3 linked regions of the Homo sapiens genome follow. The protein of the gene in region 2 interacts with the protein of the main gene of each other region in a biochemical or structural test. Each region holds a gene or a part of one and is shown on either strand. Other genes may lie near its edges. The genes, in order: IRAK4, IRAK1 and PPP3CB.

Region 1 (3,652 bases), on a different chromosome or scaffold from region 2:
GAAAATCGATGTGGATGGTCTGCCGCAGCAGGCTTCATCTTCAACATCATCTCATCCCTTAAAATGAGTTACTGATTTGTACACTGCTGATTTTCTGGGGGCATTGTCCCCATAAATAAAGCATCAGTGATTTCACCATTCTTCCAACCAACCTCCACCATAAATGTGGTGTTTGTTCTTGCTTTAGTTTTAGCAGAATTCATGTTGCTGTGGTAGAGGTTCTTTTCAAACTGTCTTATTCTTCTCAGTGTCTCAACTAGATCCTGTTTAGACATGAATGATAAGTTAGTATGAGTTTATTTTGGAAATACATTTTGCAAAAAAAAAAAAATTGAAATCCATGCATGGTTTTTGCACGATATGCATTTTCCATGAACTCTTTGAAAACCCCTTATATATGAGAATACTTACATAATGAGCATTCTTTGCTGAAACCTCTCTCCTAAGCTCCAGACCACATATATAAGTACTTGGTATGAAGGCTCCTAGATAGTGCCAAAGGTAGATATTTCACATTTAACATGAGCCAAAAAAAAAAAAAAAACTTCATTCTATCTCCCTTTCTTCTAATCGCTCATCTCTAGTGAAATTGTTTTGATTTGGCCTCCTAAATGTTTTGACGTTTTACCTCTCCATTCCCCTACCCTATACTTTTTCCAAGCTCTCCTTTCTGCTCACCTGGATTATTGCAGAAGTTTTCAAACTAATTTTCTTGCCTCAATATACATCCCTTTGATTTTTATCCAGAGGAATCCACTTAACCATATAAGATTATTTAACATCCCTCCTAAAAATCCTAAAGTGGCTCTCCTGTAACTTTTAGTTTATAAGTTCAAACTCTTTGTCTTAGCACATGAGGTACATGATGATCTGGCCCTGCTACCTTTCCACCCTCATCTCTTCTCACTTAATCACAGGCATCCTGTGGTCCAGCCATAGCAAGCTCTTTGCCTGAGACACACATGCTCTTACCTTTTCCCATGCTATTCCCTCTGCCTGGAATTTTCTTTTGGGCTTATCCTCATTCCCTTTCATTCATCCTTCCAACCTCCTACTCCAACCAAATCTGTCTTGATATCCCTATTCCAGACTGCCTCTGCTTGATGCCCCTTTTCTGGGCCCCATAACATTCTTGCAGCATTTATCACTCCCTGTCACTGTTTGTATCCCCTGGTATACTGAACAGCTTGGAAACAAAGATTTTCTCTTCTCTGTGCTCCCACTTGTTAGTACAAAGACTGACATAAATATTTTCTGAATGTATTCATGAATGAAAGGAAAGGAATGGTCTTTCTGAAATAGAGAATGGCATGAACAATGCATTGTGTTATAAAAGCAGAGTTGTATGGCATGACTTTTGGAGTCAGACATAATTGTAAGTCCTGGATCTCTCACTTACCACCTTTGTAAAATAGAGATGATAAAACTGTACTGGGAAATAATTTAGTTGTTCCAAAAGTAAATACTGAACAATACCATTATCTACAGTATGCAAGTCACTAGGTGTATATTCATGAATAAAATTAGCATGGTCCTGAACTCATGGATCTTAAAATCGAATATGGGAGACAGTAAACAGGTAAACAAATAAGTATATGATTACAAATACATTGTGCAGTGATGAAAGATAATTAGGTGAAGGGCAGCTAGACCTATTTAGATGTGGTCAAAGAAGTCCAAAGAGAAGAAGTGAATACTAACATAGAAGCCTCTGATACAGAGAAGCTTTTCGCTTTTTACTCTTTTTGATAGTTTTAGAATGTTGTTCCATATGAACACATTATTTACTCTAAAATTGTATTTTTAAAATATATATAGGGAAGCAAAAATAATTGACAGAAGAATATCTGAGTCTATTTGTCTTAATTGGAAGGAAAGATCATTTCCTATTGAGAATGAGGGACACGCAGAACAAATAAAATCCACATAGAAAGAAGTAAAGGTATGAAATAGTCACTAAGGACTATGAGAGAAGACAAGTGGAAGGATTAACGGCAGTGTTGAAGGCCCTGTGGAAAGGGGGTTACCATAAATTTGTATTCACATCAGCAACCCTGGTGTACAAGTAAAGTTGTTAGATTTATCCCTGGCTGCAGCTCTCCAGGATGGAGTAGCAGAAGTAAAGGGGGATTGCAGAAATAAAGATTCTGTCTAGAGAGTAGTTGAAGTGGTGAAGCACAGGTTTTGGCGTAGTAGCAAATGAATTGTGGTCAGGCAGATCTCATGGACTCAAAAAATGTGCAGAGGTCAAGGAAGAGCAAAGTATGTGAAAAGTGGGTGGGTGGACCATATCTGTTAATGCTACACAAATCATTTCAGTACGTTTTTTTTTTTTACTTCTACCAAAGAATGTTGCATAAATTTTAATTGTAAATAAGTACTAATTGAGAAACATAAATTGAAAGGTAAATGTTTTTATTAATAGATTTGATTTCTGAATATGCTAATTCTGATAGTTTGTTGATATTACTCTTAAGAATTTTTCTGGTAAGTTTTTTGCCCCTTTCTATAAATTTTACTAGGAAAATATCAGTGTCAGAAAAAAGTCCTCCGATTTTTATTGCTATTAATGGGTGGAAAAAGGAAGCAAACCCAGAGGATAATTGGACAAATGAATTACAATTTTAATTTCATCTTAGGATATCAATGACTTGACTTTGGAATGTTTCTTTATTATGGTATAATCAGTTGCTGACATTTCATATGATATAGCAAAGTGTGATATATAAGCTTACAGATGTCATCTCTAAAAGTACTGTAAAATTTTAATGAGATTTTTCCATATTTTAGGAATAGAAGATGAACAAACCCATAACACCATCAACATATGTGCGCTGCCTCAATGTTGGACTAATTAGGAAGCTGTCAGATTTTATTGATCCTCAAGAAGGATGGAAGAAGTTAGCTGTAGCTATTAAAAAACCATCTGGTGATGATAGATACAATCAGTTTCACATAAGGTAACAGATAAAATTCTTTGTATTTTTAAATTCTTACATCACAATATGGAATGATTAATTGGTATAAGTACTGTCTAATGTGGCAGTTTAGAAAGTAAACCTCTCCACTATGGAGGAGACATTGGTAGTAGGTAACCTCTTTTTGATTGTTCCTTTTGCAGTTTTGTCTTCTTTGTCCCATATGTCAATAGGGCTAATACTGTGATCTCTCAAATAAGTTTTTTGGGTTAGAATCAAGATTCCCACCTTTGCTGTGGTTCCCTGTTTGGCAAGCCAAGTGAAGTTCACTCTGCCTCACACTTCTCATTTCCAGATTGAAGGAAAATAAGAATGTTACAAGAATGTCTGGTAAAAATCTAGAGCTTAAATTTCAAAGTGTGTGAATCTCTAACACACTCTAACAATGTATTTTGGGACTTTTTCAATTTGACGTTTTAAAGTTGTTGCTTACAAGTGTACACTTCTGTGCACAGAATTCTTAAATCTTAGCTAGGATTTCTCAGTGCTGTCTTCAGATAATTTCAATTTTTCCTTTTTACTCATCTCTGCTCAATTTAGTGTAAAATATGCATGCATATTTTATTTTTGTCAGTCATTGCAGTTAAAACCTATGTCAAAATGTTTCTTTGGTAGCAAAAGGAAAAGAAGACTATTTGTTATTTTCAGCATTAATCTGGGAAAGAACCTAAAAG
Region 2 (3,600 bases):
AATGCCCGGGCACCCCCGCCACCACTGCCTGCAGCTTCTCTAGCCTCTCGTACACCTGCAAGTGGAAAAGAGGGACTCTCAGGGTGAGATGGCAGCCCTGGCCGGTCACCCCGTGGGCAAACCACAGGGCTGCTCCAGGCCGTCCGTGACCTGCCCCAGGGCTCTAAAATGACATACCCTGCAGCTGGGAACGCTCTGCCCCTCGCCCCTCTGTTCCCATCACAGGGAGTGCTGAGAAGCGCGGCTGCCAAAAGCAAGGACTGAGAATGGCCTCGTTCTTTTCTACAAAATGAATCTCACTGCCCCGCTGCCCTCAAACGGGGCCTCTCCATTTTCAACTGTCACCAGAGGAGAAGAGGTGGGGTACTAGGGAGGGGACAGAAAAAGGCAGATGCAGTAGTGCAGTGCGCCCAGCAGGGGGCGCGGCAGCAGCTCTTTCCTTCTCTCTATGTGAAGGGGGTCGGAGCTGGGCTCCGCAAAGCAGGACTGCCCGGGGCCCCTCAGTTCAGAGGGGCGCTGCCCCAAACAGAACCAAAGGGCAAGCAAGAAATGTGTGGAGACTCCAGAGAGACCTAGCAGGTGCTGAGATGGGGTCACTACAGAGCAAGGCCTGGAATGCGGGCTTTCTATCTGGCCACCCCGTCCCAGTGCGCAGCTGGCTACCTGGGTCATAGGAGGCCTCCTTTTGGCCCGGCGGTGCAGGCAGCAGCAGGCCAGCTGGCCCAGGCCCAGGCCCAGCTCAGGTGGGCAGGGCCCGGGCCTGGGGTCCAGGTGCTTCTTGTAGATCTGCATGGCGATGGGAGCAGCCCAGGCATCTGCAGCCAGACCTGCTTGCAGTGTGCTCTGGGTGCTTCTCAAAGCCACTCCAGCCTCCTCAGCCTCCTCTTCCACCAGGTCTTTCTGTGGGATAAATACTGTCAGTATGGCTACCAGGTGGCCACACCTGCAGCTGCAGTCCTCAGGTCCTTGTCACTCAATCGTATGGGTTTTGATAAAAAAAAAAAAAAAAAAAAAAGAGATGGGGTCTCGCTTTGTTGGCCTGGCTGGTCTCCAAGTAGGCTCAAGTGATCCTCCCGCCTCAGCCTCCCAAAGTGCTGGTGTTACAGGTGTGAGACACTGTGCCACAGCTCTTGGTCTTTCTACAACTTACTTTTTTTCTGAGACAGGGACTCATTCTGTCACCCAGGCTGGAGTGCAGTGGTGCAATCATGGCTCAGTGCAGCCTCAACCTCCCAGGCTCGTGATCCTCCCACCTCGGCCTCCCGAGCAGCTGGGATTACAGGTGTGTACCACCATGCCTATCTTGCTATGTTGCCCAGGCTGGTCTCCAACTCCCAGGCTCAAGCGATCCTCCTGCCTCAGATTCCCGAGTAGCTTCTAGAGATTTATTAAACACCTACTGTGGGCCAGTGGTGCTCTGGGCCCTAGGGATACAGGAACAAACAGAACCCTGGGACCCGGTTTGACAGAGCTGACTTCCTGGTGGGGGAGAGCCCCATGGAGCTGGGGTCTGAAGGCAGGAAGTAGCCTGAGAGGGCAGAGCCGAGAAGGAAAGCGCCCCACAGAGAGGTGCCCCACAGACAAAGAGGTACCCCAGAGAGAGAGGCGCCCCGCAGAGAGGCGCCCCCAGGGTGGAAACAGGACCGGAGGCCATCTCCAGTTCTGAAATCAGACAGACCAGGAGGAACCACCTGGGTGGGCGGTGGCTTTTCTCGCAGAGCGAACGGCACATACTAAGGCTGTGAAGCAGGCAGCAGGGAGCGCCCCGAGTCCCAGGGACCTGGGGCGTTGGGGGGTCAACCACATAAGGGACTGGGCCTTCACCCCAAGAGCAGAGAAAAGGCAAAGGGGCCTTTGAAAAGAGCACTTTGGCTGCAGGGTGGGGAGCAAGTGGGGAAGTCCAAGGACCCCCAAGGAGCCTGGTGCGCTTCTTCAGCAGGATGCATGGATGGACGGACGGGGAAGGGAAAGGAAGGAGGGCTCAAGCCCGGCTCCTGGGTTCTCAGCGGGGCTGAATCCTGACGGAGACCCCACAGCACACAGGAACCGCCCCAAACAAGAGGAGAAGCAGTGAAGCAATTACTGGCTGAGCACATTCTGTGAAGTCTGTTTTGCATATGGGAAAACAGGCCCACAGGGGAGCAGGAATTTGCTGGAAGGCCACTGTCAGGCTGGGGCTAAAACCCAGGTCTCTAGTCTCCTGGCCCCACCACAGTCCACGGTGAGGCAGACTGAGTGGAGTAAGACCGTGAGGCAGCTCAGGCTGCCCTGCACGGTGCGGAGAGCTCAGCTGCAGCCTGCTGGGGCCCAGGAGGTTCCTCGGGGCCTGCTTCTTCTCTACCACCGCCTTTCTCCGGCCAGAGTCCTCTGAGTTCCACTGCAGCTTGGGTCTCAGTGCCCTGGGACCGCCCTTCCCCCTGCCCCCAGCCCAGGTGGGGTCTGTACAAGGCCCATAGTGTCTGCAGGACAGACAGGTTTGTCCTCGGCAAGGTAAACGAAGTTGTTTGGAGCCCTGCCTACTTTCAAAAATGAGGCCACTGTGGCAGCAGAGGCATCCATGGGCACTGCGCCCCAGTTATCCCCGCCACTGGGGCTGTGCCTGCTGGCTGCCAGCAGCTGTGTGTCCCTCCTGGCCCTGCCTCAAGGGGCTCACCAGATACTTGGTCCTGGCACCGTGCGTCTTCACAGCCCTCTGACCAGCCAAGGTCTCTAGCACTACCTGGAGAGAGGGAAGAGGGAGAGCATGGCAGTGGCCTTGGCAGGGAAGAGGCCTCTGGTGTGGACATGGATTGGGCCTGACAAGGGTGTGGACAAAGGCAGAGCCAGATGTTATGGGACTGAAGCTCGGGCAACTCGGAGAGCCCACTTGAAGACAAATTACAAACACACAGTTAGGTGCAGGGTGAGGAGGAGGGCCTCGGAGGGAGGGGGACCCTGGAGCTGCAGCCTCCTGGGGTCTTGGCAGATGGCCCCTGGCCCGCAGTGCACTCTGCAGCCCCCACCTCTGCCTGCCTGTGGCTTCTCCTCCTCTGAGCCAGCAGAGGGGTCAGTGGCTCACCACCCCAAAGCTGAAGGTGTCCGTGTCCACAGCCAGCCTTCCCGTCTTGATGTACTCCTCGGGCAGGTAGGCCAGGGTGCCCCGCACTGTCTGTGTCCGGGCCACCATGCTGCTCTGGCTGGGGCTGGACCCGGCAAAGCGGCTGAACCGGGCCAGGCCAAAGTCTCCCAGCTTGGGTGTCAGCCTCTCATCCAGAAGGACGTTGGAACTTGGGGAGAGAAGACAGTGGCGTCAGCCCGGTCCTAGCTCCTACACCTGCCCGGCTTAGATAAGGCTGGACTCGAGGCTGCCAGCCCGGTGCCTTGCCCACAGAAAGCGCTGGCACTGCCCTGAGCGCTCCAGCTGCCTGGGGGCCTCTGCTCATCAGTAGGGCCCATCCTTGGCCCGTTCCCACACCTGTGCGATGCCGGGGTGTTGAGGTCCCAGGCCATGCCTGATCCCCACATTGATAGGACGCGGGGCCCCCCTTGCTGCAGGCCCTGCCCCGGCAGTTCTCAAGGGCCCCTCCTCACCTCTTGATGTCTCCATGGATGAGGCTGGGG
Region 3 (3,652 bases), on a different chromosome or scaffold from region 2:
GGTAGCAAGAGAGAACTTATGGCATGATAAAACTTTTCTGTATCATGATAGTGGTAGTGGGCAACTCTATGCAGTGTCAAAAGTCACAGAAGTAAATACCACAGAGAATAAATCTTACTGCACACAATTTTTTTAAGGAAAGCATCTTCCCCTATAAGAATCAACAAAAATATGCAAAGTTATCTGTCTTATGAAGACAAAATATTTGCTCTCTCTAAAATTATTCTCGATGATGTTATGTCTTATGAAGCAAAATATTTGCTCTCTAAAATTATTTTGGATGACAGAAAAGTCATCACGTATTGTTAAAAATAAGTCAGTCAAATCTCTAAAAACAGGCCAGGCACGGTGGCTCACGCCTGTAATCCCAGCACTTTGACAGGCCAAAGCAGGCAGATCGCTTGAGGCCAGGAGTTTGAGACCAGTCTGGCCAACATGGCAGAACACTGTCTCTACTAAAAATACAAAAATTAGCCAGGCATGCTGGTGTGCACCTGTAATCCCAGAGACTCAATGGGTGAGGAACAAGAATCACTTGAACCCAGGAGGTGGAGGCTGCAGTGGGCCGAGATCGTGCCACTTGCACTCCAGCCTGGGCGACAGAGCAAGACTCTGTCTCAAAAAAAAAAAAAAAAGAAAGAAATCTCTTAAAAACAGCTCAACCCTTCACCTTTATCGGCCAAATAAGGCAAAATTAGAACTGTACTTGAGGTTAAAATCATTTTAATACTTGCTTTATTTTATTCTAAGAGTCAATGACTACTTTATTCTTATTACAGGCAAGATGACTACATCATCACAACAAAATTCAAGGTTCATCCATTTTTTCTGAAAAATAAAAGATAATAGCATGCTCATGTCAGAAAAGCTGAGGGGTTCCTCTTGCCTACAATGAATACTTTAAAATGGGCAGTGAAGCAGGAAGCCAATATAGAAACACAAGAAAGACAAAACTCTACCAAATCAAACTATCATTTACTTTTAGAGAGATATCATGCACTTTCATTTGCTCCTTTACAACTTTAAATTCCTATTTTGGTTTTGATGAGATTTTGGTAGGTGGTTTGTTATTTATCTAGGCAAAGAAAAAGAACTTAGTTCCTATTTCCTGTTTTAATACTGTAATATTCAAATATTAAAAAAACTATATATATATCCAGCAACCAGAGATTCTACACTGGCAGTCTGCTAACGACTCTGTTTTCTAGCACTGTGGTTTAATAAAAATTCTAATTTGACTGCTTTTAGGTCAAGCATGCACTTTCCAGGTCTTATCTTACTCATTTAGGTTAACTGCCTGATCCTTGAAGTTATAAGAGTATGCCACTTCTGCCACTACCCATCACTGTATTTTTCTCCTGTTGCTGCAAGTCTCTACTTAGTATGACCTTTATTGGATCATGTTTTGAGTCTCAAAACGTTGAAATTATTTCTGCTTTTAGAATTTAACTCTACTTAATACAGTCATAAATATTAACTTAAAAAGCACAAAGGCAGGCCAGATGCGGTGGTTCACACCTGTAATCCCAGCACTTTGGGAGGACGAGGCAGGTGGATTACTTGAGGTCAGGAGTTAAGAGACCAGCCTGGCCAACATGGTGAAACACCGCCTCTACCAAAAATACAAAAATTAGCAGGACGTGGTGGCGCATGCCTGTAATTTCAGCTACTTGGGAGGCTAAGGCAGGAGAATACTTGAACCCGGGAGGAGGTTGCTGTGAGCCGAGATTGTACCACTGCACTCCAGCCAGGGCGACAGAGCGAGACTGTCTCAAAAAAAAAATAAAAATAACAAAAATAATAAAAAAGCACAAAGGTTTGAGGTGTGAAAAAGGCCTAATCTTGTTCTGTAACATATGGTTACTTACAGGTATTAGATTACCATTGCTATAATAATTTGAGAGAGAAAAGGGATAAACATTGCAGGTTAAGAATTTCACCAACTGTACCTGACTAGTCTTAAAACAATGATATTTAAAAAAACAAAAAAATTTTAAGAAGAATTTCAATCATTAATAGCATGATTGAAATGATCTGCAATGGTAACAGGATAAACAATTTGTTAGGATTCCTCACAGGAATGCCTCAAGATTGAAGGACAAAAATCTCCAATGCAAAATAACATTTTTTTCTTTTGGTTTTTATTTTTTCCTGTTAGAAAAAATATATACATTTTTTTTTCCTGAGACAGAGTTTCGCTCTTGTTGCCCAGGCTGGAGTACAATGGCGCGATCTCGGCTCACTGCAACCTCCGCCTCCCAGGTTCAAGTGATTCTCCTGCCTCAGCCTCCTGAGTACCTGGGATTACAGGCACATGTCACCACGCCTGGCTAATTTTTGTATTTTTAGGAGATGGGGTTTTGCCGTGTTGGCCAGGCTGGTCTTGAACTCCTGACCTCAGGTGATCCACCCGCCTCGGCCTCCCAAAGTGCTGGGATTACAAGCGTGAGCTACCGTGCCTGGCTTAGAAAAATTAATTGTAACATTAAAACTTATATATAAAACTCTAAGTATGTTTGTAAAAGTTAAACATAATAAGAAATTCTGAAATGAAAAAAAATTTTTTTTTTTGAGACAGGGTCTGACTCTATTGCCCAGGCAATTGTCCGTGCAGTGGCATGATCTCAGCTCACTATGACCTCCGATTCCCAGGCTCAAGCGATCCTCCCACCTCAGCCTCCTGAGCAGCTGGGACTACAAGAGTGTGCCGCCACACCCAGCTAATTTTTTTTTTTTGTATTTTTGGTGGAGATGGGGTTTCACCATGTTGGCCAGGCTGGTCTCCAACTCCTGAGCTCAGGCAATCCCCCTGCCTGGGCCTCCCAAAGTGCTGGGATTACAGGCGTGAACCACCATGCCCCACCAAAAACTTCTTAATACCATTAAACACCAGAGAGTGCTCGACAACTTTCCTCAAAGCTTTATGTGTGGACATGAAATCTGTCCTTACATGTTGCACTGTAAAGTCTTCAAAACTCTTACTACCCACTTAAGTCCAAAAGAATACTGAGGAAGTGAAAACATTTCTTCTGGCAGTACTCACATTCCTGCTTAAAGGTAAAATATTCAGTAAGGTGTCTGCATTCATGGTTGCCTCTCAGAAGAAATAATGTGCTTGGGTATAGAATCTTCAGAACCCATAAATATAAGACACACTGCAAAAGAAAATTTTTCTAGTGAATTTATCTTGTACTTTTGTTTAATGAAGCTGCTTGATCTTTGCTCCTTTTCCTCTACTACCCTTACCATCCTCTATTATCTTTCTTTGTCCCTTACTAAAATATAAGCACCACAAAATCACAGATTTTGTCATCTTATTCACTTTTGATTCTCCACTCCCAGAAGAGTACCTAGCAAATAGGAGAAGAGCAATAAATATTTGTTGAATGAATGAGTCAAACAATCTATTTAATTACTTTGGATTTACAGACTGCCCAATATAAAAACAATTAGCACACTGGTCTACAGATGCGTATTAGTAAATAATACTGTCAAAATAACAGCAGCTAACATTTATTAAGTACTTACAATATGTGAAGCACTATATAATTCCCCTAATTTATTCCTCAAACAACACTATGAAGTATGTAATATCATCTTTATTTTACAAATGAGAAACTGAAGCAAAGATCTCAAGTAACTTGTCCAAAAC

The links.
Region 1: of the proteins of IRAK1 (region 2) and IRAK4, one has a biochemical effect on the other in vitro, tested with the Homo sapiens proteins (2 studies listed by BioGRID).
Region 3: the proteins of IRAK1 (region 2) and PPP3CB form a complex in vitro, tested with the Homo sapiens proteins (one study listed by BioGRID).

The regions. Positions count from the first base shown.
Region 1 is NC_000012.12:43,765,313-43,768,964, forward strand, and holds part of IRAK4 (interleukin-1 receptor-associated kinase 4), read left to right. Parts: intron 1-2,790; 5' UTR 2,791-2,799; coding exon 2,800-2,960; intron 2,961-3,652.
Region 2 is NC_000023.11:154,013,379-154,016,978, forward strand, and holds part of IRAK1 (interleukin-1 receptor-associated kinase 1), read right to left. Parts: coding exon 3,571-3,600; intron 3,267-3,570; coding exon 3,059-3,266; intron 2,720-3,058; coding exon 2,654-2,719; intron 901-2,653; coding exon 664-900; intron 56-663; coding exon 1-55.
Region 3 is NC_000010.11:73,471,876-73,475,527, forward strand, and holds part of PPP3CB (serine/threonine-protein phosphatase 2B catalytic subunit beta isoform), read right to left. Parts: intron 3,156-3,652; coding exon 3,044-3,155; intron 1-3,043. UniProt on the Homo sapiens protein: Calcium-dependent, calmodulin-stimulated protein phosphatase which plays an essential role in the transduction of intracellular Ca(2+)-mediated signals.